Linked DNA regions of Homo sapiens. The protein of the gene in region 1 purifies or fractionates together with the protein of each later gene. This does not show direct contact. Each region holds a gene or a part of one and is shown in the gene's direction. Other genes may lie near its edges. The genes, in order: PRDM5, PRDM10, CCDC77 and GLYR1.

Region 1 (7,027 bases):
TTTAAGTTTTGTGTTAGTGTTAATAATAACGAAATCATTGATATCTCATTGCTCTCTGTCTGCATGTGTGAATGACACTGTTGCATGACAACTACATTTATAGGCCACCACAAAGTGTTGCTTGCATAAGGCCAGTTAGTGATGCAAAATTCACTTTAAAAATTGAACATAATTTCATTTGACATGTGTAAATGTCACTTTTTGTCATATGTATTTGTATTTTATTTGCCAGGTAACTGAATATTGTCACCTGCCTTTTTCAGCACCCAGATCAACTAGAAATAAAAAAAAGTAATAACTTTTCATGCACACATAGTACTCCATTAATGTATCTTAAAATTATTTCTTAATTACTATCAGAAACAAATGAATGGTTCAGCATTTAAAAAAATTTGTTTCAGGAAGGAGAAAACATTTTCTATTTGGCAGTTGAAGATATAGAAACAGACACGGAGCTTCTGATTGGCTACCTGGATAGTGACATGGAGGCTGAGGAGGAAGAACAGCAAATTATGACAGTCATCAAAGAAGGGGAAGTTGAAAATTCTAGAAGACAATCAACAGCGGGCAGAAAAGGTATTGCATCTTTAATTGGTGATCTGGGAGAAGAAAAGTTGTAGAAAAAAGTGTAGTTTAAACTGTGGTTGAATTATAGTTGCCTTGTAATATGGCATTCTCAAATAAAGTTAGTTTTTGTCAAAATTATTCTCGAGGGTATCCTGTGGTGGACTCATCTTTGTTACAGCAGGAAAAGTATTTTGGGAGTGGGTGATGGATGTACCCTATAGGACTGCCTAGGCCGCAGGCAGGGCTGCATTGCTAGGGCAGCTCCCGGCTCTCACTGCTCTCACTGGCGCATTGGGGTAATGAGTAGTGAGGATTTTTATAGTCTTGCCATAGCTCTGCCACTAATCAGTCTTGTAACGTTGGGCAAGTTGCTGACTTTCTGAGACTTTACTTTCTCATCTGCATATAGGAAAAGGTGAGAGTGGAGGTGAGGTACACAAGAGAGCCTGCTGGATCCGAAGGGGATTGATTCCTCTTGTTTGGGATCTTTTGGGAACCTGCAGCTTCTTGGCATCTCTTTCTGTTCTGATCACAGAAGCCTGGAGGATTGCTAGGTTGCCCTAGTGTGGTTACCAAAAACTTTCAGTGACCGTAGGTCAGACCTTCCTCAGTCAATACTGCAGCCACTTGCTTGTTAACTGCCAGGGAATAATCAATTATTATTGGCCTTGTTTCTATTATGTTGTGTTTTACTCCTAAGGGAAATTTAAGGGATATATGAATGATGCTATAGGTATTCACATTTTGTAATAGGCCTCGTCTTTATCCTTTCAGGCTGTTATAACAAAATACTTTAGACTAGATACTTGGTAAGCAGCAGAAATTTATTGCTTACGTTTCTGGAGCCTAGGAAGTCTATCAAGGTGCCAGCAGATTTGGTGTCTGGTGAGGGCCCGTTTCTAATTAGATAGCACCTTCTAGCTGTGTCCTCATGTGACAGAAGGGACAAGCAAGCTCTCTTGGGCTTCTTTTACAAGGGCATTAAGCCCATACATGAGGACACAGTGCTCATAACCTAATCATCTCCTAAAGGGCCCACCTCTTAATACAATTCCATTGCGGTTTCAGTTTCAACGTATGAATTTTGGGGATTCACGAACATTCAGACCATAGCAGGCTGATACTTACTATACAGTACTTTTCCATTTTGTGTAGCAAAGCCACTTCAGAAGTGATACTGGTTTCATTAGTCAAAGTGGTAGTATGCTTTTCCTGTACTTTTTCTGTTCTAACTGCATGTTATTGGCTGAGAAAGTGTGAACATTCTGTCACCATTGCCAGCTTATGCTTCTGTTTCTTTATTTTAGTTGAATTATTTAAGGGGAAGATAAGGACAGGCTTATATGCATTATGCTATTTGGAATATCATATTTTGGGTGATGGGAATTATTTCTGTGTTATTCTGTGTTTTCTTTGTTTTTGTATTTTATTTTTTCCCTGTTGTCCCCAGGGCAAGTTATTTTATCCATTATTTTAATTTAAAAATAAGTAATCTACTTACCTATTACTGCCCTGATTTCTGCTTTAGTTATTAAAATACCAGTTTTCATTATCTTTGTAAAAAGAATCAACAGAAACTTAAACAGAATTTTTTAAACACATGAACCAAGCACTTGCATTGTGGCTATTTTGGTTTTTTTAAAATTTTATTTTATTATTATTATACTTTAAGTTTTAGGGTACATGTGCACAATGTGCAGGTTTGTTACATATGTATACATGTGCCATGTGCCATGTGCCATGGCTATTTTTATTTTAGAATTCTTAGTTTTATTTAGAAAAGCAAAGAAACAAAATAAAAACAAACAGCAAAAGAAACAAGCCACCCAAATGTCTAACAATGAAGAGTTTGGTTAAATAAATTGTGGTACTTTAAGTTTAAAAATATGCCAACATTTGACTTGAGAAGATGTTAAATGGGAAAACATATAAAATTGTATATAAAGTATGATCCCAAATTTACCTCTTCTTAGACTGCGCATAAAATATGTATGCACTAAAGGCAAGTCAGGCTTGCCAGTAATATTATGACAGTTGTCTCTTCCTGATGGGATTATTGGTGTTTTTTATTTTCTGCATTTTCTAAGTCTAATTTTATTTTATAATCAGAAACAAATGTGTAATTTAAATAGCACGCTGAGAAATTTGGTCAGACCTGCACCAGTCTATATGGGACCGTGTAGCATAATTCACTCTACTAGCTTAATCAGCACTGTTTTTATGACCTTGGTCTTTTTTCACATGTATGTGAGATTCTCCTTGGTAATTCAATATAGTTTGCATCAGTTGGATTTTTCTCCTTGTGAAGGTAAAAATGAGCTAAAAATGACCAATTTCAGGAATAGCTTTTGTTTTCTAATTTAACATTTTGATCTGAAAAGTTAACATTATAGGATGAATTAAATAAGGAATTTGACTTTGTATTAATTTGGTGAAATACAAGTGATTTTGAAAATAATGTATTTCTCTCTAGTAACACTTGCTATTATTTTTTTGTGGCCAAATACTATTAATATTTATAGTGATAATAAGAATTTATTCATATGGTATCATTAAGCACAATTAATTAATTAATTTAAAATGAGAGCAAAACTGAGCATTTCTTGGCTCTGAATTTTTGTCTCATGAATATGTTTCCTTGTGAATGTGCAGATCGCCTTGGCTGTAAAGAGGACTATGCTTGTCCTCAATGTGAATCGAGTTTTACCAGTGAGGATATTCTTGCTGAGCATCTCCAGACATTGCACCAGAAACCCACAGAGGAGAAAGAATTTAAGTGCAAGAACTGTGGGAAGAAATTCCCAGTTAAGCAGGCTTTGCAAAGACAGTGCGTATATTAAAGAAATATCTTTAAAATTATAAGCTAACACAGTTTATTCCATTCAGCTTAACTCATAGTTTTTAACCTGTGTGTGTGTGTGTGCACGCGCGCACGCGCATGTTTTGTGTGTGAATGAGAGATTAAGCATTTTACATTGGTATTGTCATTAACTCATCTTTTCTTAGTATAGTATGTTGATTATTAAAATATTCAAATTATGGATTTTAACACATAAACACTGTTTATGGTAATTAGTTTTTGTCCATTTATTAATTTGCCATTATGTATCAAGCTTACTGGTTTAATCTGAAATTCAGATATGCCTACTTTAGTTACTCCTTTGAGGTAACAGACTTTTAGTTGTCTACGTTTTATATTCCTTCTGGAATCTGTTTAAAAAAAAGTTTAAGAAATGGGGAGTTCAAAGTATAAAGAATTCCTGGACATTTTGGGAAGCACTGTTTATTTGAGAGCAACTTTGGAGGAATAATTTAAAGATGCATAGGTCCCAGTTATAACAATATGATTAATTAGATGATCCCACACATAGCTCTGTACCCTTTTTTATTTTAACAATTTATATTAACAACATAAAATTATCTTTATTTAAATATTTTACAGGATCAGAAATTGTTAAAAGTGAGAAAGTAGGTATATGCATTTGTAAAGTTTTATTTTTTTACTCATTAAAGTTTGTAATTTTAATCAGATAATTGAATTTAAGTAATTTAAAAGCATATTTACATATTGGATGCAACTGTAGACTCTCATTGTGTTGAAGCCAATTACTTCCAATATGAAAGTAATGTAAATTGTCCCATCTCATCAACATATCTCTTCTCTTATGTGCTCCCATCCTGCCATTTACTTTCTTTCTCCAACCTTAGCTTCTCATTTTAACAGAATGTTACCTTACTTATGAGCAAGAAATCTTTAACATAGGCTTTAATGTTACATTTTTACATTTTTGTGTTTCATTGAACTAAAATTCTGAAATATGCTACATTTCATACTAAGACTGTATGAATATTATTATATGCATCAACTTTTGCTTATAAAAATTGAGATGAAAATTGTGCTTAAAACTTAATAAATGTTCAGAATATCAAAACTTTTATAATAGCAGGATACTACATATTTAGAAATTCTATTGTACTTCCTTAAAAAACAAGCAAGGACTATATGCTTTTAAATAAATAGATGTTAAGTTGCATTCTGGTTAGCTTTTATTGCATTTAGTATTATATATTTATACAAAAGACACTGCTGAGCAAGAGCTTATAGTTAAGGTACTGCTAAAAATTTAAAAAGGCAAAAGACAATGAAAAAAGGGATCACGAACATGACTTTATTCAGAGTTAGTGTAGTTTCATTTTTGTCTTAGAGTTCCAGTTTTTGTTTTCTTTTCTTTCTCTTTTTCCTATTTCCCTTTAGTGTTCTTCAGTGCACAGCGAAAAGCAGTCTAAAGGAGTCTTCGCGAAGTTTTCAGTGCTCTGTTTGCAATTCTTCCTTCAGTTCAGCATCGAGGTTTTGTGTCTGAGTTATGAAATGGCTGTTATATAATTGTGGGTCATTTTTTGCATGCATACTTTCATGCTTCTTAGTAATTCAGTTTCACATACCTACAGAATTTAAATGCTTTTCTTCTTACCTGCATAGGTAATGCATGGAATGACCCCGAAACTCTACTAGGGAGCATGTATTACAAAATCTTGCTGATGTTTGAGTTTTGTAGGTATGTCTTCACCATTTCTTCCTGTTCCGCTTTGCTGGTTGTCTTGTAGTTTTGAGCAGCACCAGGAGACTTGCCGGGGGGATGCCAGGTTTGTGTGCAAGGCTGACAGCTGTGGAAAGAGGCTGAAGAGCAAGGATGCCCTGAAAAGACACCAGGAAAATGTCCACACTGGTGAGGAGTCGTTGGAGGGTCGTTTCCGAAGGGGCTTCCTTTCCCCAGGCTGCAGCGATCTGTTTTTAATTCTCGCTCTTGAGGAGAGAGCTGGCTTTTCCATTGTGTTTCACACAGATGTGGAGCGCTGGCAGTGGATTTTTTTCTTTCACTGAACACTATTTCTTTCTCAGGTTGAATTTAGCAGCATTTGTTCTTTTTCCCATTCCTGAATTAATTATAACTGTAAGCCTTAGTTAAAGTCTAGTTATGTTTGGGTGGTCAGATGCATTAAGAATTAATATTTTTAAGTAACAATTTTAAATGTTTTGGCATGTGACATTTCTTTTATAAATTGTTAAAATTTATCATTATTAAGTGATGTCCTTCTGCCTTATTATTTTTACAGTAAAAATCCAACTTGTGAAAATACAGTTCTCCTAAGTTAGAGAAAATTGCTAACACATTTTGACATTGGAATTGAATATGTATGGATTAACAAAACAAATATTATTTGAATTCCATCTGATAGCTAGCTAAACAATAAAACAAATATAAAATTTGACTGTCTTTTGGGTTTATCTGCTTAGCACATGGTATACTGTCAGTAAATATATTTTGGCTTAGGGATTAAATCTATTGCAGTGAGTTGAACAGATGGCTGTATTGTCTCAGTTAACTTTTTACTTCTTGTCTTTTTACCTCCAAAGACTTCCTCCTTAAAGGAGGTTGAGATTTATGAAACCCTGTGTGTTCTTCTCTTCATATTCTTTGTTCATGTGTTTATTTTTGCCCTTGACTTCTGGGAAATGGGTGGCTATGTGTCTCTGGATGTGGGGGAAAGTGGATTTCTTTTCTCCCTTCAGTTGTTTATTCTTATATTCAGGAGAAGATGATAATCTGCACCCAGCATCTGTATCCTGTATTTGTTCATTGTCCAAAAAGTATTCACTTTAATAATAATACAGTTATAGAGGCTAGCGTGAACAACTGCTAGCTGCGACTTTGCATCATTGGTTTGGGCTGCATATTAAGTGCAACCTATGGTGAAAGCTCTGTGTGGTGGAAGTAGGGCCTTGTGAAATGCACCTCCAGCTTGGTGCCCTTCACTAGGCTTTTACAGTGTTCTGGTTTCTTTCTTTCCTTTTGAAGAATACACAGCTGACTTAGGGAAGATGGATTTTTTTCTGAATTCAGTATACTGGGGTCTTCCCTATGATTGCAAAAGGCAAGCATAACTTTTTGATAGACTTGCCTTCGTAGTTTTTTGATTTTCAATGCTGTTCTAGTTAAAATGCTATTCTTAATTTTCTTCATCTATGTCTGCAATATATTGTAATAGAACTTTCATGTCAGTTTTAAAGCTTAAGTTTGCTGAACTAAGTAAAAAACCAGATGCATACGAAACTCTGGAGACTTGCATTCTTATTACTGGGCATGTTGTCTTCAGGCTGTGCTATAAGCACAATGTCTTTGAGGCTTCTTGTAGTTGGCCTTGCATATTGTAATATTATTAATTCTGGAAATTTATGGTGATTTTGTAGGAAATAATTCATAAAAGGAAATCTTGTTTTATATATATTTTTTAATTTGTGGACCATATAAAGTGTAAAATCTTGCTGTATTTTAGCTAACGGTTACTATGCCATATGTTTTGCTGGGGTTGGTACATGATGTCATTCTCTCATTCACAGTATGTCTCTTGCTTCTCCCCTTTCCTCCATGGGCTGCACAGGCATTGGAGGAAAGAATAT
Region 2 (7,027 bases), on another chromosome or scaffold:
TTATAAAAGTGCCAGCAAGCGCAAAGCCCACATTCTGAAGAACCACCCAGGAGCAGAGCTCCCACCGAGCATTCGGAAGCTCCGACCCGCTGGTCCTGGAGAGCCAGACCCCATGCTGAGCACACACACCCAGCTGACGGGCACCATCGCCACCCCTCCCGTCTGCTGTCCCCACTGCTCCAAGCAGTACAGCAGCAAGGTAGGGGGAGTTTCTGACTAAAGCTAAGGTCAAAACCGCCATGCGAGGAATCTCTTAAGGAAAGGTGGCTTCTCATCCACATGGCCTGGATGGCTCCTTCTGAGTTGACGGGGGACTGAAAGAGATGTTGTCCTAGTCACTGTAAACAGAGAGCACAGCAGAGAATGGAAAGAGGATACTGTGGACCTCCCCAGAATTAGTGCCGTACAGCAGCCCGAGCAGCTGGCTGTTTTCCTTTTCCCTTGGCCTGCGGAGGGCCTCACGTTTGAATGTTCTGTGCTTGCAGTTGGTGAGTTCAGGCTTTTGGAAGCACCACATAGAAAGTTACGTGGTGGCTTTACAAAGGAGGTCATTTTGGCTGGGGGGATTGTGATTGATTGCTGCAGGTACTATTTGGGGGGGGTATTGAGACCTTGCTGATGGTGTGAGGTCAGGTGAGGTTTTACTTCTTCCCCACCCTCTTCCCTGCTTTCATAGCATTATGTTACCCCAGGAAGTACAGGCATAGAGTCAGTGTTGCTCTGATTTTTCTTTTTTTAAGACATAAAAGACTTTAGGAATCTTTGGAGGATTTACATATGAGAAAAACGGAAAATCACAAATTCTAATAATTATTCTTGTTTTTTGCCTTGCTTTTTCAGACCAAGATGGTCCAGCACATTCGAAAGAAGCATCCAGAGTTCGCCCAGCTCTCCAACACCATACACACACCACTGACGACAGCTGTGATCAGTGCCACCCCAGCGGTTTTGACTACAGACAGCGCCACTGGAGAGACTGTGGTGACGACGGACCTGCTCACCCAAGCAATGACAGAACTGTCCCAGACCTTAACGACAGACTACCGAACGCCACAAGGGGATTACCAGAGAATTCAGTACATCCCTGTGTCGCAGTCGGCGTCTGGCCTCCAGCAGCCTCAGCACATACAGCTGCAAGTGGTTCAAGTGGCCTCGGTACTGCGTGCCTTGGTTTCCCTTTGCCTTATGAATGCCGTGTTGCCACTAGCACCTCATTCTCAGAGCTGGGGCTGGGATCTATGTAATGTCCTTCTGCGTGGAAGTTCTGAGCCTTGGGCATTTTACAACTGCCCCTTCCCCTTTCAGGCTGATGAGGCCTCTGGCCTTAGCAATGTAAGAGATTTCTGTCTATAGTAGTCAGGAAATTTTAGGTTCCAGCATATACAAGCCTCCTGTGCTGTGGCAGGACAGTAGCCACAGCACCTGTTTCTGACCCTCTTCTGATCCTTATCTTTAACCATCCTGGTTGGCTGCTTGGTAATGAGCCAGTTTGATAAATCACGACCTGCGTATCAAATGTCTTATATCAAAGAGAGGTCATAAAGCATAATATTGATGGCTGGGCGCAGTGGCTCATGCCTGTAATCCCAGCACTTTTGGGAGGCTGAGGCGGGCAGATCACTTGAGGTCAGGAGTTCGAGACCAGCCTGGCCAACATGGCAAAATCTCGTCTCTACTAAAAATACAAAAATTAGCTGGGCATGGTGGCGGATGCCTGTAATCCCAGCTACTCAGGAAGCTGGGGCAGGAGAATTGCTTGAACCTGGGAGGCGGAGGTTGCAGTGAGCTGAGATCACACCATTGCACTCCAGCCTGGGCGACAGAACAGGACTCAAAAAAAAAAATTGAGTCAATCTCTGCATATCAGTCAGTGCCTTTGTAGTATAGAGGTATAACTGTGTTCCTTCTACCAGATAATGAATAACTCATTCTTATTGACTAAGGAACTAAATGAAAGTGATTCTCCCAGAACTATTGTTTCATTTAATTACACTGAGGAGAAGTGTCCCCAAGGCACAAATGAACAAACTTGTTGCTTTGAAATCATTTGGTCTCTGAAAATTTAAAACTAACATGGGGACAGGAAATTGGAAGTTGCCACTGTCGTTGACTATTCTTTGTCTTGTTTTTCTTATGGAGGGTTTTTAACTTCAGGCTTTGGAGGAAGCTATATGAGTCCCTGAAGTTGCCTGTAAATTATGATGTATAGGTACATTGTTCTAGAAAAAGGGCCTGTACTTTAGCTACTTTTTCAAAGATGTTTATGATATATAAAAGGTTAAGAACCACTGTCATAGTGGGTTAATGGTGACAAACTAAAAACGAATTTCTTTGATCTCTTTTAATTGATAAAGGGTAGATCATTAAATGTAACTGAAATTTTTGATTCCTGACAACTTCTTTTTCAGCTTATTGTCAGGAACTATCTTCCCTCTCTCTCCTTCTCTTCCAGAATCTAATAGTGGCTTATGTGTGAGAAGCATATTTCTCTAAACGCTCTTTTTTTATCCTGTTGTATGGCGTGTTCTAGGTGTGGGCTATCTGCGAGTGCAGCATTGGAGCTGAAATCCCTTCCATTCTTCTATTTCTGTTGGCATATATTGGGATATTGTTTTTGGTTTTTTTTTTTTTTTTTTTTTGGAGACAGGGTCTCACTATTGTCACCCAGGCTGGAGTGCAGTGGCACAATCATGGCTCACTGCAACCTCCGCCTCCCAGGCTCAGATATTCCTCCCACCTCAGCCTCATCAGTAGCTCGGATTACAGGCATGCCACCATGCCTGGCTATTTTTTTTTTTTGAGATGGAGTCTCGCTCTGTTGCCCGGGCTAGAGTCCAGTGGCACGAATTCAGCTCACTGCAACCTCTGCCTCCCAGGTTCAAGTGATTCTTCTGCCTTAGCCTCCTGAGTAGCTGGGATTACAGGTGCTCGCCACCACACCCAGCTAATTTTTGTATTTTTAGTGGAGACAGGGTTTCACCACATTGGTCAGGCTTGTCTTGAACTCCTGACCTCAAGTGATCCCCCCGCCTCAGCCTCCCAAAGTGCTGGGATTACAGGGGTGAGCCACTGCACCCTGCTGCCTGACTAATTTTTTTTTTTTTTTCGAGATGGAGTCTCGCTCTGTCGCCCAGGCTGGAGTGCAGTGGTGCAATCCCAGCTCACTGCAAGCTCCGCCTCCCAGGTTCACGCCATTCTCCTGCCTCAGCCTCCCTAGTAGCTGGGACTACAGGTGCCTGCCGCCACACCCAGCTAATTTTTTTGTATTTTCAGTAGAGACGGGGTTTCACCATGTTAGCCAGGACGGTCTCGATCTCCTGACCTCGTGATCCACCCGCCTTGGCCTCCCAAAGTGCTGGGATTACAGGCGTGAGCCACGGCGCCCGGCCATTCACCTGACTAATTTTTGTATTTTTTGTAGAGACAGGGTTTTGCCATGTTGCCCAGGCTGGTCTCGAACTCCTGGGCTCAAGCGATACACCCGCTTTGGCCTCCCAAACTGCTGGGTTTATAGGCATGAGCCACTGCACCCGGCCAGGATATTGTTTTTAACTGAACCTTTTCTCTGGAAGGATTTCCCTTAACTTCAATCAATATATGTCTGGTTTCTGGGCCTGTTTTTTCTCCTTCCAGGCCACTTCCCCTCACCAGTCACAGCAGTCCACTGTGGATGTTGGCCAGCTCCATGATCCTCAGCCCTACCCCCAGCACGCCATCCAGGTGCAGCACATCCAGGTCAGCGAGCCTACCGCCTCGGCCCCGTCCTCCGCCCAGGTACCCTGCTCCACAGACTATTTGGAGGTGTTATCATGGCTTCAGGGATTATCAGAGTTAATGAGAGGGAAGACATTCTCTTCAGACCTAGTCTCCTCAGCTACTGTTATTTTTGGATTTTTATTAAAGGATCTTACCTTTGCCTCCAATTTTTATATTGGCATTGTGGACACATATTAAGCTGTTAGCTGCTTCTGCCCTCATAGAGTCCTGTGGTACGACATCCTAGAAACAACAGTGGTCTTTGCTTTCATTCTAAATGCAATGGCTAAGTGGCTTCTATGATTTGGAACAGTGGCTTTCTGGAGTATTATGGTATATTTTATGTTACTGTGTTTGTATGCTTGAGTCTGGAATTGAGATACATAGATAAGTTCTCAGAGTTCAGAGAGGGAGAGATTAGGTTTAGGAGGGAATCCAGGACATTTTTTAGAAGAAGTGGTCTTTGAGGTCTTGAAGGAGGGGTACAGTTCTGACATAGTCGTTGGGGAAGGCAGTCTGATCTGAAGAAGCTCATGCTGCAATGGAAAATGTACATTTATAGAAAACAGGGTTATTCTGTTTAGATTACTCACAGGAAATGATGTTTGGAAAGGAAGTTGGGAGGGTAGTTTGGAGCAGGATTGCAGTGTGGCAGGCTGGAGAGCGCTGGCCTCATCCTGTTATCAGGAGTGGGCCTCTTCACCCACCTGTGCTGAACTCCACCAGCCAGGTGGGATTTGCCAGTACTGGTGAATGGAAACGATGAACTTTGGGTTTCATTTCATTTTGTGTTCCAGATTAGCTTTGTGACACAGGCAAGTTACTTCACCTCCCATTATTTTTAAACTTATAGAATGTAGGTAATTATATTTTCTTTCATTTATCTTTCCAACAGTTGATTGAAATTAATTTTTTTGCATACTCTGGTAGAGAATCCTTTGAAAGCAAATTAGAATTTCATAGTTATGCTTGCTTTTCATTGAGTTTATTCTTATTTAAAATATTACTTTTAATAATAGCAATGATAGGCCAGGCGTTGTGTCTCATGCCTGTAATCCCAGCACTTTGGGAGGCCGAGGCGGGTGGATCACCTGAGGTCGGGAGTTCGAGACCAGCCTGACCAACCTGGAGAAACCCCTTCTCTACTAAAAATACAAAATTAGCTGGGTGGGTTGGCACATGCCTGTAATCCTAGCTACTCGCGAGGCTGAGGCAGGAGAATCACTTGAACTCAGGAGGCGGAGGTTGCGGTGAGCCGAGATCATGCCGTTGCACTCCAGCCTGGGCAATAAGAGTGAAACTCCATCTCAAAAGAAAAAAAAAATAGCAACGATAGTTTCAGTATTATAATTCATATGAGTCTGGTGTACTTCCTTCAGTTATTTGTGAGTCTTCACTATATTAGAAGCTCGTAATTCCCTACCATTGCTTTCTCTTTCTCCCCAGGTATCTGGGCAGCCGTTGAGTCCCTCAGCCCAGCAGGCTCAGCAGGGGCTCAGCCCCTCCCACATCCAGGGCAGTTCTTCCACACAGGGGCAGGCTCTGCAGCAGCAGCAGCAGCAGCAGCAGAATTCCTCTGTGCAGCACACGTACCTGCCCAGTGCTTGGAATTCCTTCCGTGGCTATTGTAAGTAAGAAGGGACGATGCCGTGTCGGTCAGGGGTGGGGGATCTCCAGCCATGTGTCATAATTTCTTCAGCTTGTGATAGATTTTTAAAGTATCTCTTGGCCATTGTTTACACTCTCTATGAATGTACTTCAATGGGTTTCATGACAAAACTCAAGGTGTAGCATTCCGCTTTCACAGAGCTACCCTGATAGGACATTTTCGAAACGTCAGGTATATTGCTGGAGGAAATGTAGCTATGAAATTAAATAGTAAGATAGTTGGATATAGCTTATGTTGAGTCATCCCTTCCACCAATATTTGTAGAATGCCTGTCTATCAATCGCTGTACTAGACACTGGCTATGCCAAGATTAATATTCTCATTAGTATCGGTAACACCACACAATAATAATGTTAACCAGCTTTCATTAAGCTCTTACTACATTGCCAGGAATGATTCCGAACCATATATATCACAGTCAGTATTCACAACAACCTATAAGATAAGTACAATTGTTATTTGCATTTTACAGATAAGGCAATTTCCACACACTCACTTTTCCAAGAGCTAGTAAACAGAGGATTGGAACCCAGGCAGTTTGGCTTCAGAGTGTCCACTCTAAACCACCCCACTGTGCAGCTGACCATCATCTAGTAAAGGAGGGAGATAGAAGAGTCGTTGATTCCAAAGCCCTGAGATTCGTGCTGTGGAAACAGTAGCAGGCTGGCTGACAGAGGTCGGGGCAGGTAAACCCCTTGGTGGGGAAACAGCTTTGGGGCAGGCCAGGAAGTATGAGACCTTTCTCATGGAAGGTGTGGAAGGAATAGGAGTAGACTTTAACAGACCTCAGTAGTAGAAACTAGGAGGAAGAGGTGCTGAGAAGGGAAAGGGTCGGTATTGATCTTTCTTCTACTGTTGATTTATTTTTGGGGGCCCGTCTTTGTCATGATTGATCCTTGGCTATGTTACATAGATTTGCTATGGAGTCAGGCTCAAACTCTACCGTCTAGTTATTTTTACAATCAATATTCTTTTTTTTTTTTTGAGATGGGGTCTCGCTCTGTCACCCAGGCTGGAGTGCAGTGGCACAATCGCGGCTCACTGCAACCTCCGCCTCCCGGGTTCAAGTGATTCTCCTGCCTCAGCCTCTTGAGTAGCTGGGATTACAGGCACCCGCCACCACGCCCAGCTAATTTTTGTATTTTTAGTAGAGACGGGGTTTCACCATGTTTGCCAGGCTGATCTCGAACTCCGGACCTCAGGTGATCCGCCCACTTCAGCCTCTCAAAGTGCTGGAATTACAGGCATGAGCCACTGTGCCCGGCCACAAACTATACTCTTAAACATTGGACGTCACATTGAGGGCTGGGTCTAGTTTCCAGTCAGGGACTCTCTTACCACTAGAATCTGGTGAATAGACTGACCTCTGTACTCAGTGTAATTCCTGTGAAAGAGAGTGGAGCGGGCCAGGCGTGGTGGCTCATGCCTGCAATCCTAGCACTTTGGGAGGCCGAGGTGGGCGGATCACTTGAGGTCAGGAGTTTGAGACCAGCCTGGCCAACATGGTGAAACCCCATCTCTATTAAAAACACAAAAAAAATTAGCCACGTCTGGTGGCGGATGCCTGTAATCTCAGCTACTCAGGAGGCTGAGGCAGAAAGA
Region 3 (7,027 bases), on another chromosome or scaffold:
TTTATGAGCACCTTAATTATAAGCACTTTGGGAACACAAAACCCCCTTTTATTTAGGAAGTTATAACTCATAAACTTTCGCAGAGTGTGATGAATATATCATTTCTAATTTCACGTAGGCGAACAGTTGTCTCCAAACGTGGTGTTGCCGTCAGTGGTCCCACCAAGAGGAGGGGAATGGCAGATTCACTGGAGTCAACCCCCTTGCCTTCCCCCGAAGATCGTCTGGCCAAACTCCATCCTTCTAAGGAGCTCCTGGAATATTATCAAAAGAAGATGGCTGAGTGTGAGGCAGAAAATGAGGACTTGCTGAAGAAACTGGAACTCTACAAAGAAGCTTGTGAAGGACAGGTAAAGAAACGATGCTGCTGCTTTAGAACTCTGATGGAGTCTTCATAAATTAGAGATGCCCTACAAGTGCCAGTTTATATCAGAAGCAGATGTTTTATAAAAATACTCCTTTTTTATTCCCCAGCCCAGCTATTGCCCCTTCAGGCCCTCCTTGGATCATAACCCCCAAAACTGCCCTTCCTCTCAAATCTTAAATTCTGACATCTCCATATCTCTTATACCTAGTTCTTTCATCTCCTTGTACCTGAGTAGTCCTTAACTTCTTTGTTACCTCCATAGCTTCCTGACTTTTCAGTTTTCTGAGTGCTGTATATAGCTCTGATATCAAGTCCTTCAAACCTAAACCCCATGATGCTTTACTTGAGTAGTAACTGCAGTGCCTGCAAATGACCCCTTGCTCAATTATTCTTCTGCTCCACCTGCATAGCAAAAACTGAGCTGTGGCATCATCCAGTTCTCTGCCACGTGTTCTCCTATAGCAGGATTTCTTAACCTCGGCATTATTGACATTTTGGCCTGGATGATTCTTTGTTGTGAGGGGTTGTCCTGTGCGTGATGGGATGTTTAGCAGGATCCCTGGCCTCTACCCGCTGGATGCCAGTAACACAACACCCCCAGCTGTGACAATCAAGAATCTCTCCAGACATTGCCAGATGTTTCTGGAATGGGTGTATGGATGTGCAGAGTCACTCCTGATTGAGAACACTGTTGTAGAAAGGTCACAAATCAGTACAGAATGAATCGATGGTAAACAAATTCAGCTGTACCCTCAACCATTATACAGCAGTCTTCTCACCTATCCTTACTGGCTTTCCTCTCCTTCCACATCTGTGCCATACCCTCACCTCTAGCCTGCAACCCCTTCTTAGCCCTCCTCTCTCAACATCTTTTCTGCCATCTGCACACCGTTACTCCATCCGTATCTATCTCCTTCTTCCTTCCTTTGTTTTTTCTCTGGTTGCTTTTCTTTTTTTTTTTGAGACGGAGTCTCGCTCTGTCGCCCAGGCTGGAGTGCAGTGGCGCGATCTCAGCTCACCACAAGCTCCGCCTCCCGGGTTCATGCCATTCTCCTGCCTCAGCCTCCCGAGTAGCTGGGACTGCAGGCGCCCGCAACCATGCCTGGCTAATTTTTTGTACTTTTAGTAGAGACGGGGTTTCACCGTGTTAGCCAGGATGGTCTCAATCTCCTGACCTCGTGATCTGCCCACCTCGGCCTCCCAAAGTGCTGGGATTACAGGAGTGAGCAACCGTGCCCGGCCTGTTTTTTTGTTTTTTTGAGACAGCGTCTTACTCTGTCGCCCAGGCTGGAGTGCAGTGGCGCGATCTCAGCTCACTGCAAGCTCCGCCTCCCGGGTTCACGCCATTCTCCTGCCTCAGCCTCCCGAGTAGCTGGGACTACTGGTGCCTGCCACCATGCCCAGCTAATTTTTTTGTATTTTTTTAGTAGAGACAGGGTTTCACCGTGTTAGCCAGGATGGTCTCGATCGCCTGACCTCGTGATCCACCCGCCTCGGCCTCCTAAAGTGCTGGGATTTCAGGCATGAGCCACTGCGCCCGGCCTCTCTAGCTACTCTTTTTATATAAATGGCTCTTTCTTTTCCCAGTCACACTTCCAGAATCTTTTGACTTTCCCATTCACTGAATGGGATTTTTTTTTTTTTTTTTTTGAGACGGAGTCTCGCTCTGTCGCCCAGGCTGGAGTGCAGTGACGCAACCTCAGCTCACTGCAAGCTCTGCCTCCTGGGTTCAAGCAATTCTCCTGCCTCAGCCTCCCGAGTAGCTGGGATTACAGGTGCACGCCACCACACCTGGCTAATTTTTTGTATTTTAGTAGAGGCAGGGTTTCACTGTGTTGCCCAGGCTGGTCTCAAACACCTGAGTTCAGGCAACCTGCCTGCCTCGGCCTTCCAAAGTGCTGGGATTACAGGCGTGAGCCACCGCGCCCAGCTGGGAAATGTCTTGACTGCAGTTTCATCTCGGTCCTTGCCATGCCACTAAAACCGTGCCGTCTGCGGTCTCCAAATACCTGTTTACCAAACTTTTCTCTTTTTGCCCTTTGCAGTGTCTGTCACTTTTGACCTCTCTTTTTCTAAAATTTTCTTCCTTTCTTGATTTCCTTTTTTTTTTTTTTGAGACGGAGTCTCACCCTGTCTGCCAGGCTGGAGTGCAATGGCACAATCTCGGCTCACTGCAACCCCTGTCTCCCGGGTTCAAACGATTCTCCTACCTCAGCCTCCCAAATAGCTGGGATTATAGGTGCCCACCACCACACCTAACTAATTTTTGTATTTTTAGTAGAGGTGGGTTTTCACCATGTTGGCCAAGCTCATCTCAAACTCCTGACCTTGTGATCCGCTTGCCTTGGCCTCCTGAAGTGCTGGGATTACAGGCGTGAGCCTGGCCTCCTTTCTTGATTTCTGTGTCATTTTTCTTTCACAATTTCTATCTAACCTCTCTGATCAGCTCATCTCAGTGTCCATTAACAACTCTCTTTCCTTACTCTTAAATTTCAGAGTTCTTCCAGATTCTACTATAAATGACCTTGTTTTATCCTTGTATTACACTTCTGCATACGGGATGATGACTGTTAAATAACTAACCCTGACTCACTTTTCTCCTGAGGCTCCTTTCTCTACCCTCCCTTCCCCACCCGCACATGTACTGCCACCATTTCGCCTTCCTCCGTTTCTCATGCCTTAACTTTTTCTTTATTCTTTGTCTTGGCAAATGGCATCATTGCCTACGGTTCTTCCAGTCCCCCTAAACCGAATCATTTGGCAAGTCCTGTTGATTCTGCTTCCTAAATATTACTTAATCCATTCCCACACCCACCTCACTTTGGCCACGATGCTCACACAGACCCTTGAGTTGCGTCTAAACTGTGACGGTGTCCTCCTTGCCAGTACCTGCCTCTGGCCTCTTACATCCCCAGTTGGCCTCACACTTTTCACTCTAGCAGTACTGAAATATTTGTACTTGTCCAAATTTAATAGGCTTTTGTTTTTTGGAGGTTTACTTGTCATTTTTATCACATTATGTATGTATACAATGAATTACAGGGTAATTCATTCCATTTGGGCTCCTGGATAGCTTCAGGATGGGAGCTGGTTGCCAGATGGCAGTGATGCAGCATCTCTGAATACATTTACTGGGACACAGTGTGAGCCACCGTGCCCAGCCTAATTGTTTTTGTAGATTCTACAAAAAAAGTGTTTCCAACCTTTTGAGTTCCACTGTGGACTTGTATGCTCTCCCTTTCTCTGAATCAGTTGTTAATATTTATTAACATAATTATTAACATAATATTATGTTAATATAATCAACATAATATTATGTTAATATAATCAACATAATATTATGTTAATATAATCAACATAATATTATGTTAATATAATCAACATAATATTATGTTAATATAATCAACATAATATGTTGATATTATTAACATAATTAACATAATAATATGTTAATATTAACATAATTATTAACATAATAATATGTTGATATTATTAACATAATTATTAACATAATATGTTAATATTAACATAATTATTAACATAATAATATGTTGATATTATTAACATAATAATATGTTAATAAAAATGTAATAAATATTTTTATCACATTATGTATGTATCTATAGACCTCTGGGTTTTTTGTTTTTTGTTTTTTGAGTTAGGGTCTTGCCCTGTTGCCCAGGCTGGAGTGCAGTGGTGCGATCATAGCTCACTGCAGCCTCAACGTCCTGGACTCAAGCAATCCGCCTGCCTCAGCCTCCCAAGTAGCTGGGACTACAGGCATGTATCACCATGCCCAGCTAATTTTTTATTTTTTATTTTATTTTGAGATGAAGTCTTGCTCTTGTCACCCAGGCTGGAGTGCAGTGGCACAATCTCGGCTCACTACAACCTCCGCCTCCCAGGTTCAAGCAATTCTCCTGCCTCAGCCTCCTGAGTAGCTGGGATTATAGGCGCCCACCACCATGCCCGGCTAATTTTTGTACTTTTAGTAGGGACTGGATTTCACCATGTTGGCCAGGGTGGTCTTGAACGCCTGACCACAGATGACCCATCTGGCTCGGCCTCCCAAGGTGCTGAGATTACAGGTGTGAGCCACTGCACCCTGCCCAATTTTTTATTTTTTGTAAAGACAGAATCTCGCTCTGTTGTCTAGGATGGTCTTGAACTCCTGGGCTCAAGCCATCCTCCCACTTTAACCTCCCAAAGTGTTGGGATTACGGGCGTGAGTCACTGTGCCCAGCCTTTATGAAATTATTTTTAATGACCTTGCCCAATTTTAAGTGTTCAGTTGAGTAGTGTTAAGTGTTTATGTGTGTGTGTGTGTGTGAGTCTGTGGGTGTGTGGGGGTGTGTGTGTGTGTGTGTGTGTGTGTGTGTGTGTATATATATATATATATATATATATATATATATATATATTTCTTTTTTTTTTTTTTGGAGGCAGTCTGGCTCTTTCACCCAGGCTAGAGTGCAGTGGTGCCATCTCAGCTCCCTGCAACCTCCGCTTCCTGGGTTTAAGCAATTGTCCTGCCTCAGCCTCCCAAGTAGCTGGGATTATAGGGTGCGCCACCACACTCAGCTGATTTTTGTTTTTTTGGTAGAGATGGGGTTTTGCCATGTTGGTCAGGCTGGTCTTGAACTCGTGGCCTCAAGTGATCTGCCACGCCTGGCGTGTTAAGTATATTCACATTGTTGTGTGACTGATCTCTAGAACGTTTTCATTTTACAAAACCAAAACTCCATCCCATTAAACAGATCATTTCTCCCCACACTCCCTGTAACCACTATTTTACTTGCTATTTCTATGAATTAGAAATAGAGCAGGATTTGTCAGGCATGGTGGCTCGTGCCTGTAATCCCAGCACTTTGGGAGGCCGAGGCCGGCGGATCACCTGGGGTCAGGAGTTCGAGGCCGGCGGATCACCTGGGGTCAGGAGTTCGAGACCAGCCTGACCAACATGGCAAAACCTGTCTCTATTAAAAATACAAAAATTAGCTAGGCGTGGTGGCACATACCTGTAGTCCCAGCTACTTAGGAGGCTGAGGCAGAAGAATCGCCAAGGAGGTGGAGGTTGCAGTGAGCTGAGATCACACCACTGCATTCCAGCCTGGACGACAGAGCAAGGCTCTGTCTCAAAAAAAAAAAAAAAATAGAGCAGGATTTATTTAGAATAGAGTGGAATCATACTGTAGTTTTTCTTTTTGTAACTGACTTATTTCACTTAGCATAATGTCCTCAAGTTTCGTCTGTGTTGTAGCATGTGATGAGATTGTCTTCCTTTCTGACAACATCAGGCTCTCTCATGGTTCTTATTTACAGTTCTCTTTTCTTGGAGTACCAACTGTCTGCTTCTCTCTCTACCCATCTTCTGTTCATCTGTCAAGTGTCAGCTCTTGGGTGGTAGCGCTTTGATTTCCCAAACAGATCTCAGAATGTTTATTCCTGCCACGCTTTCCCCCACACCATTTCACCATGCATGCTTTCATGAAGTAATTATTTTATTTTAATCATTTGCCTCTCTCCCCATGAAATTCCGTAGCTCTGTAGACAGGAATCGTATCTTTTCATCTTTGTTTTCCTGCATGTCATAATAATGCTTATGATATAGGAAACATTACTAAAAAAGTGTGGATAGGCTAGGTGTGGTGGCTCACGCCTGTAATCCCAGCACTTTGGGAGGCCAAGGTGGGTGGATTGCCTGAGCTCAGGAGTTCAAGCCAGCCTGGCCAAAATGGTGAAACCCCGTCTCTACTAAAATTAGCTGGGCGTGGTGCACACCTGTAATCCCAGCTACTCAGGAGGCTGAGACAGAAGAATCACTTGAACCTGGGAGGTGGAGGTTGCAGTGAGCTAAGATCATGCCACCGCATTCCAGCCTGGGCGACAGAGTGAGACTCTGTCTCAAAAAAAAAAAGTGTGGATAGAATAGGTGAGTCGTACAGCATTCTGGATTCTATAGTCTGTAAAAGGAAGATGTGAGAGCTTTGATGTTAAATGCAAACTTCACACTCATCCTGTAGCTGTTAAACTCCAGTCAAGGCTGGGCATGGTGGCTCGTGCCTATAATCCCAGTACTTTGGGAGACTGAGGCGGGTGGATCACTTGAGGTCAGGAGTTTGAGACTAGCCTGCCCAACATGGCGAAACCCCATCTCTACTAAAAATACAAAAATTAGCCGGGCATGGTGGCATGCACCTGTAATCTCAGCTACTCGGGAGGCTGAGGCACAAGAATCACCTAGAAGGTGGAGGTTGCAGTGAGCTGAGATCGTGCCACTGCACTACAGCCTGGGCAACAGAGCAAGACTTGGTCTCAATAAATAAAAAAACAAACAAACTCCAGTCTATACATGCCTATTGCTGTCATTTGAATTCTGTATTGGCAAAATTATTTACTTTGGAATATTTCTACATGAGTAGACTCCTCCCTATCCAGTGAGAGATACTCCATTGAAACCCAGTGTCTTTCAACTATCTTATTGTGGTTTTTTTGCAGCATAAACTTGAATGTGATTTGCAGCAGAGGGAGGAAGAGATTGCTGAATTGCAGAAAGCTCTAAGTGATATGCAGGTCTGCCTCTTCCAGGAACGGGAACATGTTTTACGCCTCTACTCAGAAAATGACCGACTGAGAATCAGGTACCAAATAGGAGAAGGG
Region 4 (7,027 bases), on another chromosome or scaffold:
GTTGGGGAAACCAGGACCATTAATCTGAGACTCTGACCATATAACATGTTACAGTGACGGGAAGAACGTGAAGAACCTGTATTAACTTGAGTTGCTAGTGATTTGTTTAGCTTTTTATCACTATGTCAAGTGGCTTACCTGGGTCTAGCTAGATGGTTTGATTTTTTTTTTTTTTTTTTTTTGAGATGGAGTTTCACTCTGTCACCCAGGCTGGAGTGCAGTGGCATGATCTCAGCTCACTGCAACCTCCACCTCTCGGGTACAAGTGATTCTGGTGCCTGAGCCTCCCGAGTAGCTGGGACTACAGGCGCACACCACCACACCCGGCTAATTGTTTTATATTTTTTAGTAGAGACGGGGTTTCACCATGTTGGCCAGGCTGGTCTCAAACTCCTGACCTCAAGTCATCTGCCCCTCCCCCCCCCAACCCCCTCAGCCTCCCAAAGTGCTGGGATTACAGGCAAGAGCCACCATGCCCAGCCGGTTTGATTTCTTTAAGTAGTTGTATTTCTATTTATTATTCTTATAGGAAAATACAGCCTTAGATTTGAAAAAAATGTCTGTGGCTTCTCTGGTAAATCTAATTCTGACGGTTAAAGTATTTCTACTTAGAAAGCGATATATTATAAACAGTATTCTTCACTCATCCAGGAGTTTATATGTCAGATGCTCTTCCTGGTTTCATGTTTACAGATAGACCCAGCCCCATTTCTCTATCACAAGCCAGCTTAGCAGCCTGTGGTGGCAGTATTTCAAGGAGATCGCTGGCCTGGAGCTGTGGAGCCAGAGCTTCTGGAAGAGGGAATGTTCTTAGAACTCCATGGATTTAAAAAGAAGATTTGGCCGGGCATGGTGCCTCAGGCCTGCAATCCCAGTACTTTGGGAGGCCAAGGTGGGTGGATCACTGGAGGTCATGAGTTCGAGACCATCCTGGCCAACATGGCAAAACCCCGTCTCTACAAAAAATACAAAAATTAGCCAGGAGTGTTGGCGTCTACCTGTAATCCCAGCTACTTGGGAGGCTGAGGCTCGAGAATTGCCTGAACCCAGGAGGCAGAGATTGTTCGAGACCCTGCACTCCAGCATGGGTGACAGACTGAGACTATGTCTCAGAAAAGAAAAAGAAAAACAGGAAAGATTGTCCTCATGCATAACATCAGTGTTATGTGTCCACTTTCTGAATTGCTTGACACTGAGGGAATTTATAAGAAAGCAAGTATTATAGTTCCCACCTTCCAGATGCTCAGTCAAGTGACAAGTTGTAAACATTTCAGATAAGATGATGTGCACAATGATGGTCGGGCATGGTGGCTCATGCCTGTAACCCCAGCACTTTGGGAGGCCGGGGCAGGCAGATTGCTTAACGCCAGGAATTTGAGAACAGCCTGGCCAACATGGTGAAACCCTGTCTCTACTAAAAATACAAAAATTAGTCGGGTGTGGTGGTGCACACCTATAATCCCAGCTACTCAGGAAGCTGAGGCAGTAGAATTGGTTGAACCTGGGATGCGGAGGTTGCAGTGAGCTGAGATCGCGCCACTGCACTCCAGTCTGGGTGACAGAGCGAGACTCTGTCTCAAAAAATAAATAAAGATTATGTGCAGAATGAATGATGGCAGATAATTGTTAATTCTAGGCTGGGCACAGTGGCTCATGCCTGTAATCCCAGCACTTTGGGAGGCCAAGACAGGAGGATTGCTTGAGCCCAGGAGCCGGAGACCAGCCTGGACAACATAGCAAGACCTTGTCTCTACTTAAAAAAATAAATTTTTTTTTTCAATAGCCAGGCATGGTGGCACACAAGTGTAGTCCCAGGTATGCAGAAGGCTAAGGCAGGAGGATTGCTTGAGCCCAGGAGGTCAAAACTGCAGTGAGCCATGATCACAATATTGCACTCCAGTCTGGGTGACAGAGCTAGACCCTGTCTTAAAAAGAAAAAGAATTCTAGAAGAGGGAGAGCTCAGTGGAGAGCCATGAGAACCAAGAAGACTGACTGAAGAGATGGGATTTGTTTTTCTGTTTGTTTTTTTTTGTTGTTGTTTTTTTTTTTTTGAAACGGAGTCTCGCTCTGTCGCCCAGGCTGGAGTGCAGTGGCGCGATCTTGGCTCACTACAAGCTCCACCTCCCGGGTTCATGCCATTCTCCTGCCTCAGCCTCCCGAGTAGCTGGGACTACAGGCGCACACCACCATGCCCAGCTAATTTTTGTTGTATTTTTCAGTAGAGGCAGGGTTTCACCATGTTAGCCAAGATGGTCTTGATCTCCTGACCTCGTGATCTGCCCGCCTCGGCCTCCCAAAGTGCTGGGATTACAGGCGTGAGCCATCGCACTCAGCCAGAGATGGGATTTGAATCCAGCTCTGGAAGATACATAGAATCTGGATGGATGGGGACTATAGGGGCATTTCAGACAGTGGGGATACCATGAACAATTGGCATTAAGCTGGGTGTTATGGAAAGGAAGAGGCTCCCTGCCTGAGGTAACTTGTGCTTAGGAATAACAGAGGCAATATGGTTGGCCCAAACTTCATTAGCTAAATGAATAATTACACAAGTCTGAAACAAAAATGGGAACTCAGTCTCATAAGGAGCCTGAAAGCCATTGTTTCCTTATGTTTTTTGTTGTTGTTGTTGTTGTTGTTGTTCTTGTTTGGTTTCTTGATTTTTTTTTGAGAAAGGGTTGGAGTGCAGTATCACGGACATGGCTTACTGCATCCTTGACTTCCCAGGCTCAGGTAATCCTCCCACCTCAGCAGTCCGAGTAGCTGGGACCACAGTTGTGTGCCACCATGCCCTGCTAAATTTTTTACTTTTTTTTTTTTTTTTTTTTTTTTTTTTTGTAGAGACAAGTTCTCGCCATGTTTCCCAGGCTGGTCGCAAACTCCTGGGCTCAAGTGATCCTCCCACCTCGGCCTCCCGAAGTACTGGCATTATGGGCATGAGCCACAGCGCCGAGCCCCGATTTTTTTTTTAATGCTAAAAGACTAGATTAATAAACTGTGATCCTTGTTTATAACAAGTGCTAGAAATAGGACACAGAAAATTGGAGTTGAGTTAATTTCAGAGCTTAACCAGGCAAACAGGTGAAGCCAGTGGTGATGTGCTTGCTCAAGACAAAAATAGCCTGGATGGTGGTGGTGATGATATAATTTCTAACTGACGAAGGTTCTTTGGAGGGTTGTAAACAAGTGGGATACAAAGCAACTGCTAAATGCAATATTTTTAACTTTTTAAACTCCTTTGCTAGAGTTCTACATTTTAAACTATAAAAATGAAGTCACTGTGGTACTAATGTGTTATCTTTTTGTGGGTAGGCAGTTAACTTAGAGAAAGGAAATAAAGGGTAAAGATGTACAGTACTTCTCTAAAGAAGGAACACTTCCTTAGTGATCAGTGCTGGGGCAGATTTTATTTTGTGTTTTTCTATGAAGGTAAGATCTCCAGATTGGCTGGTGGCAGCAGATTACTTTGGGGAAAGAGCTCTGGATTGGTTACCAGCCTAATGTGCATTCAGGTACCGGTTCCACCTTGCTCCCTGATTTGGGCAAGCTATTTCACCTTTCTGAGCCTCTGTGTCCTCTACATAAGGGGATGATACCCCCTACCTCATAGTTAGGAAGGAAAAGTAGTATCTCTTGTGTAGAGTGTGGCTTGCCATACAGCAGGTATTAGCACACATTGGTCCAGGATGCCTTTAAGTATGGAAAACTGAGAGAGATGGAGACTCTCCCTATGGGAGAGAGAGAGAGTGTGTGTGTGTGTGTTTGTTTGAAAAGAAAGGAATATGAGAGTTGGAAGTTCCTAAAGGATGTCAGCCAGGTTTGCTCTTTTTACCAAAAAGGCTTTGAGTACAAAACCATGCATCATTCCACCTTTATGTAAAACTGTATGCGCCTCATCAGGAATACTCTATGGACTTCAGATCATGCTTTCAAAGGGATCTCTTAGAATTGGCCAAGATCCAGAAAAGGGAACTGAGTCAGACAAAAGAGCAGGACTCTTCAATGTGGAAAAGCAAAGACTGAAGGAATCACGGGATCAGGAGGTAGGAAACAGCGAATGGCCTAGAGGAGTTTGGCGATGGGCACTGCAAGTGGATTGTGGTATGACTGTGTTAGGACCAGGGTGAGGAGCACTGCATAAAAGGGGCGTTTAAGAGGTGGTGTAAACAGGTATTGCAAGGGGATTTTTTAGGGATGAGAACTAACTTGTGAAGACAAAGCCATAAGTGGCTCCTGTAGAAGCTGGACTGCACCTCGCCTTTAACACTTGACATCAGGGAGGGGGCATGTGGTCCAGGCACATCCTGGGTGGGGGCACCATTGGTTACTGGACCCTGGCCCAGGTGGATAGGGTCTGACCCAGTGGAGTGTCCTCCGTTCCTGAGAAATACAGGATTTGGTCAAAGATGTTCAGTTTCAAAATTGACACACTACTTAGGCAAAAAAAAGTGTAGTTATACTTTTTTAATATTTGCAAGGTCTTTTATTAAAGAGCAGAAAGAACGGCTCCTTATGACAAGATAATCAGTGATTACAATCTTTTAGAAACCTGATTTTTCTCTCTCCACATCTCTGCCAAAATATCTAACAAATTGTGTTGACATCCCACTGTTAGGAGAGGGCCAGACCTTCCTAATCAGGTGTCCTGGTGAGAGGAGGACTTCTTTATACGGATTCGGCTCCCTGAGCGAGATGGCCAAGACAAAACTGCCCACGTAATTTTTGTATTTTCATGGAAATACGAAGGGGATATAATTTCAGCAAAACCCTGCCAGCTTCACTTGGTGACTACAACCAAAGATTATGTGTCAAGTGCACGAGGGTCCCTCTCTGACAGGTCTGATTAGTGGTGACCCCCCCATCAGAGTAGAGACAGAGCTCACGGTTTAAAAGTTTCATCGGGGCCAGGCGTGATGGCTCACACCCGTAATCCCAACACTTCAAGAGGCAGAGGCAGAAGCATCACTCAAGCCTAAGAGTTCAAGGCCAGCCTGGGTAACATGGCAAGACCCATCTCTACAAAAAATTTAAAAATAAAAAATTTAAAGCTACCATGCCGGCTTGTTCTCACCTTTATACTCTATGCTTGTGTGTGTGTTTGTGTGTGTGTGTGTGCTTTTTCTCTGTCTGTCTCCCTCCCCCTGCCATCTTCTCCCCGCCCTTTCTCCTTTTCTCTTTCTCTTAGCTTCACGGCTTCAGCCCAGGTCACCTGTCTATCCGAAGGCTGAAACACAGGTGAGAGGGTTCATGCGTAGTAGCATGTACCTGTAGTCTCAGCTACTTGGGAGACTGAAGCAGAAGGATCGCTTGAGCCTGGGAGGTCAAGGCTACAGTGAACTGTGATTGAGGCACTGTATTCCAGCCTGGGTGACAGAGCAGGACCCTGTCTTTTAAAAAAGAAGAGTTTTGGCCAGGCACGGTGGCTCACATCTGTAATCCCAGAACTTTCAAAGGGCAAGTCAGGCGGATCACGAGGTCAGGAGATCAAGACCATGCTGGCTAACATGGTGAAACCCCGTCTCTCCTAAAAATACAAAAAAATTAGCTGGGCGTGGTGGCGGGCACCTGTAGTCCCAGCTACTCGGGTGGCTGAGGCAGGAGAATGGCGTGAACCCCAGAGGCAGAGCTTGCCGTAAGTCGAGATCGCGCCACTGCACTCCAGCCTGGGCAACAGAGTGAGACTCTGTCTCAAAAAAAAAAAAAGAAAAGTTTCATCAGTGGCTGTGGATGATGATGGAATGGAGGGAGTGTTCATTTAAATTACAGGTGCTTAGAAGCCACCAGAAACCAACCGGTTCAACAGATTGTGGACAAACAGTGGAGAAGCTGCAAGTGCCTACCTGCGAGTTTCCATAGCAGTCTTCCCCTCCAGTCCTCACAGCAGCCCTTTCAGGAAGTGCACAGGGTCATCTTTCTGGTTCTTATTTTTTCACAGATGAGGAAACTGAGAGACCAGTGGTCCTTTTCCACCAAGCCACATCTAAGGTGGACCGGTCTCGCTGGATGTGAGGTGTCTGAGTCAGTACTGAAAGTAGCTGCTCTAGAAGAATATGTGGTTAATAATTAGAAGCATAGCAGCTTGGAAGCATCCCTTTTTCGTTTCACCTGGCACCTGATTTGTGTGTGTTTTTTTCTGGTGCCTTTATTTCTGAAGAACTTGGCCTGTAACACCTCAGTAATCTTCAGCCCCTTTGGATGGATTTTTTTTAAAAAGGCACCCATAGAAATTGTTTACTAAGTATTCACCAAATCCAAATGGAGAAGCAAACCCACACCTTCTGGCCCCATCTTTGTTCTCACCTGTATTTTTATTCTTATCTTTATTTATTTATTTATTTATTTATTTATTTATTTATTTATTTTTTGAGATGGAGTCTCGCTCTGTCGCCAGGCTGGAATGCAGTGGCACGATCTTGGCTCACTGCAACCTCCGCCTCCTGGGTTCAAGCGATTATCCTGCCTCAGCCTCCGGAGTAGCTGGGATTACAGGCGCATGCCACCGCACCTAGCTAATTTTGTATTTTTAGTAGAGACAGGGTTTCACCGTGTTGGCCAGGGTGGTCTCAATCTCTTGACCTCGGCCTCCCAAAGTGCTAGGATTATAGGCGTGAGCTACCGTGCCGGCTTGTTCTCACCTTTATACTCTATGCTTGTGTGTGTGTGCTTTTTCTCTGTCTGTCTCCCTCCCCCTGCCATCTTCTCCCCGTCCTTTCTCCTTTTCTCTTTCTCTTAGCTTCACGGCTTCACCCCGGGTCACCTGTCTATGTGAAGGCTGAAACACATGTGACAGCGTTCAAGATTAGTCATAGGCTGACATCTTTAATATACAGTATCTACATGTATGATTTTCTTTTTTTTTTTTTAAAGACCAAGTCTTGCTCTGTCGCCCATGCTGGAGTGCAGTAGCACGATCTGCACTCACTACAACCTCCACCTCCCGGGTTCAAGCAGTTCCTGCCGCAGCCTCCTAAGTAGCTGGGATTACAGACGTGTGCTACCACAACTGGCTAATTTTTGTGTTTTCTG

What was found.
Region 2: the proteins of PRDM5 (region 1) and PRDM10 purify together in Homo sapiens (affinity purification with mass spectrometry; 2 studies listed by BioGRID and IntAct, with this or other methods). This does not show direct contact.
Region 3: the proteins of PRDM5 (region 1) and CCDC77 purify together in Homo sapiens (affinity purification with mass spectrometry; 2 studies listed by BioGRID and IntAct, with this or other methods). This does not show direct contact.
Region 4: the proteins of PRDM5 (region 1) and GLYR1 purify together in Homo sapiens (affinity purification with mass spectrometry; 2 studies listed by BioGRID and IntAct, with this or other methods). This does not show direct contact.

What each region holds. Positions count from the first base shown.
Region 1 is NC_000004.12:120,814,720-120,821,746, reverse strand, and holds part of PRDM5 (PR domain zinc finger protein 5), read left to right. Parts: intron 1-401; coding exon 402-576; intron 577-3,219; coding exon 3,220-3,394; intron 3,395-4,822; coding exon 4,823-4,915; intron 4,916-4,927; exon of another isoform or gene 4,928-5,123; intron 5,124-5,172; coding exon 5,173-5,294; intron 5,295-7,027. UniProt on the Homo sapiens protein: Sequence-specific DNA-binding transcription factor. Represses transcription at least in part by recruitment of the histone methyltransferase EHMT2/G9A and histone deacetylases such as HDAC1.
Region 2 is NC_000011.10:129,908,832-129,915,858, reverse strand, and holds part of PRDM10 (PR domain zinc finger protein 10), read left to right. Parts: coding exon 1-199; intron 200-840; coding exon 841-1,155; intron 1,156-3,633; coding exon 3,634-3,774; intron 3,775-5,202; coding exon 5,203-5,383; intron 5,384-7,027.
Region 3 is NC_000012.12:411,629-418,655, forward strand, and holds part of CCDC77 (coiled-coil domain-containing protein 77), read left to right. Parts: intron 1-118; coding exon 119-350; intron 351-6,865; coding exon 6,866-7,008; intron 7,009-7,027.
Region 4 is NC_000016.10:4,837,269-4,844,295, reverse strand, and holds part of GLYR1 (cytokine-like nuclear factor N-PAC), read left to right. Parts: intron 1-693; exon of another isoform or gene 694-892; intron 893-2,905; exon of another isoform or gene 2,906-4,044; intron 4,045-4,616; exon of another isoform or gene 4,617-5,053; intron 5,054-7,027. UniProt on the Homo sapiens protein: Cytokine-like nuclear factor with chromatin gene reader activity involved in chromatin modification and regulation of gene expression. Acts as a nucleosome-destabilizing factor that is recruited to genes during transcriptional activation.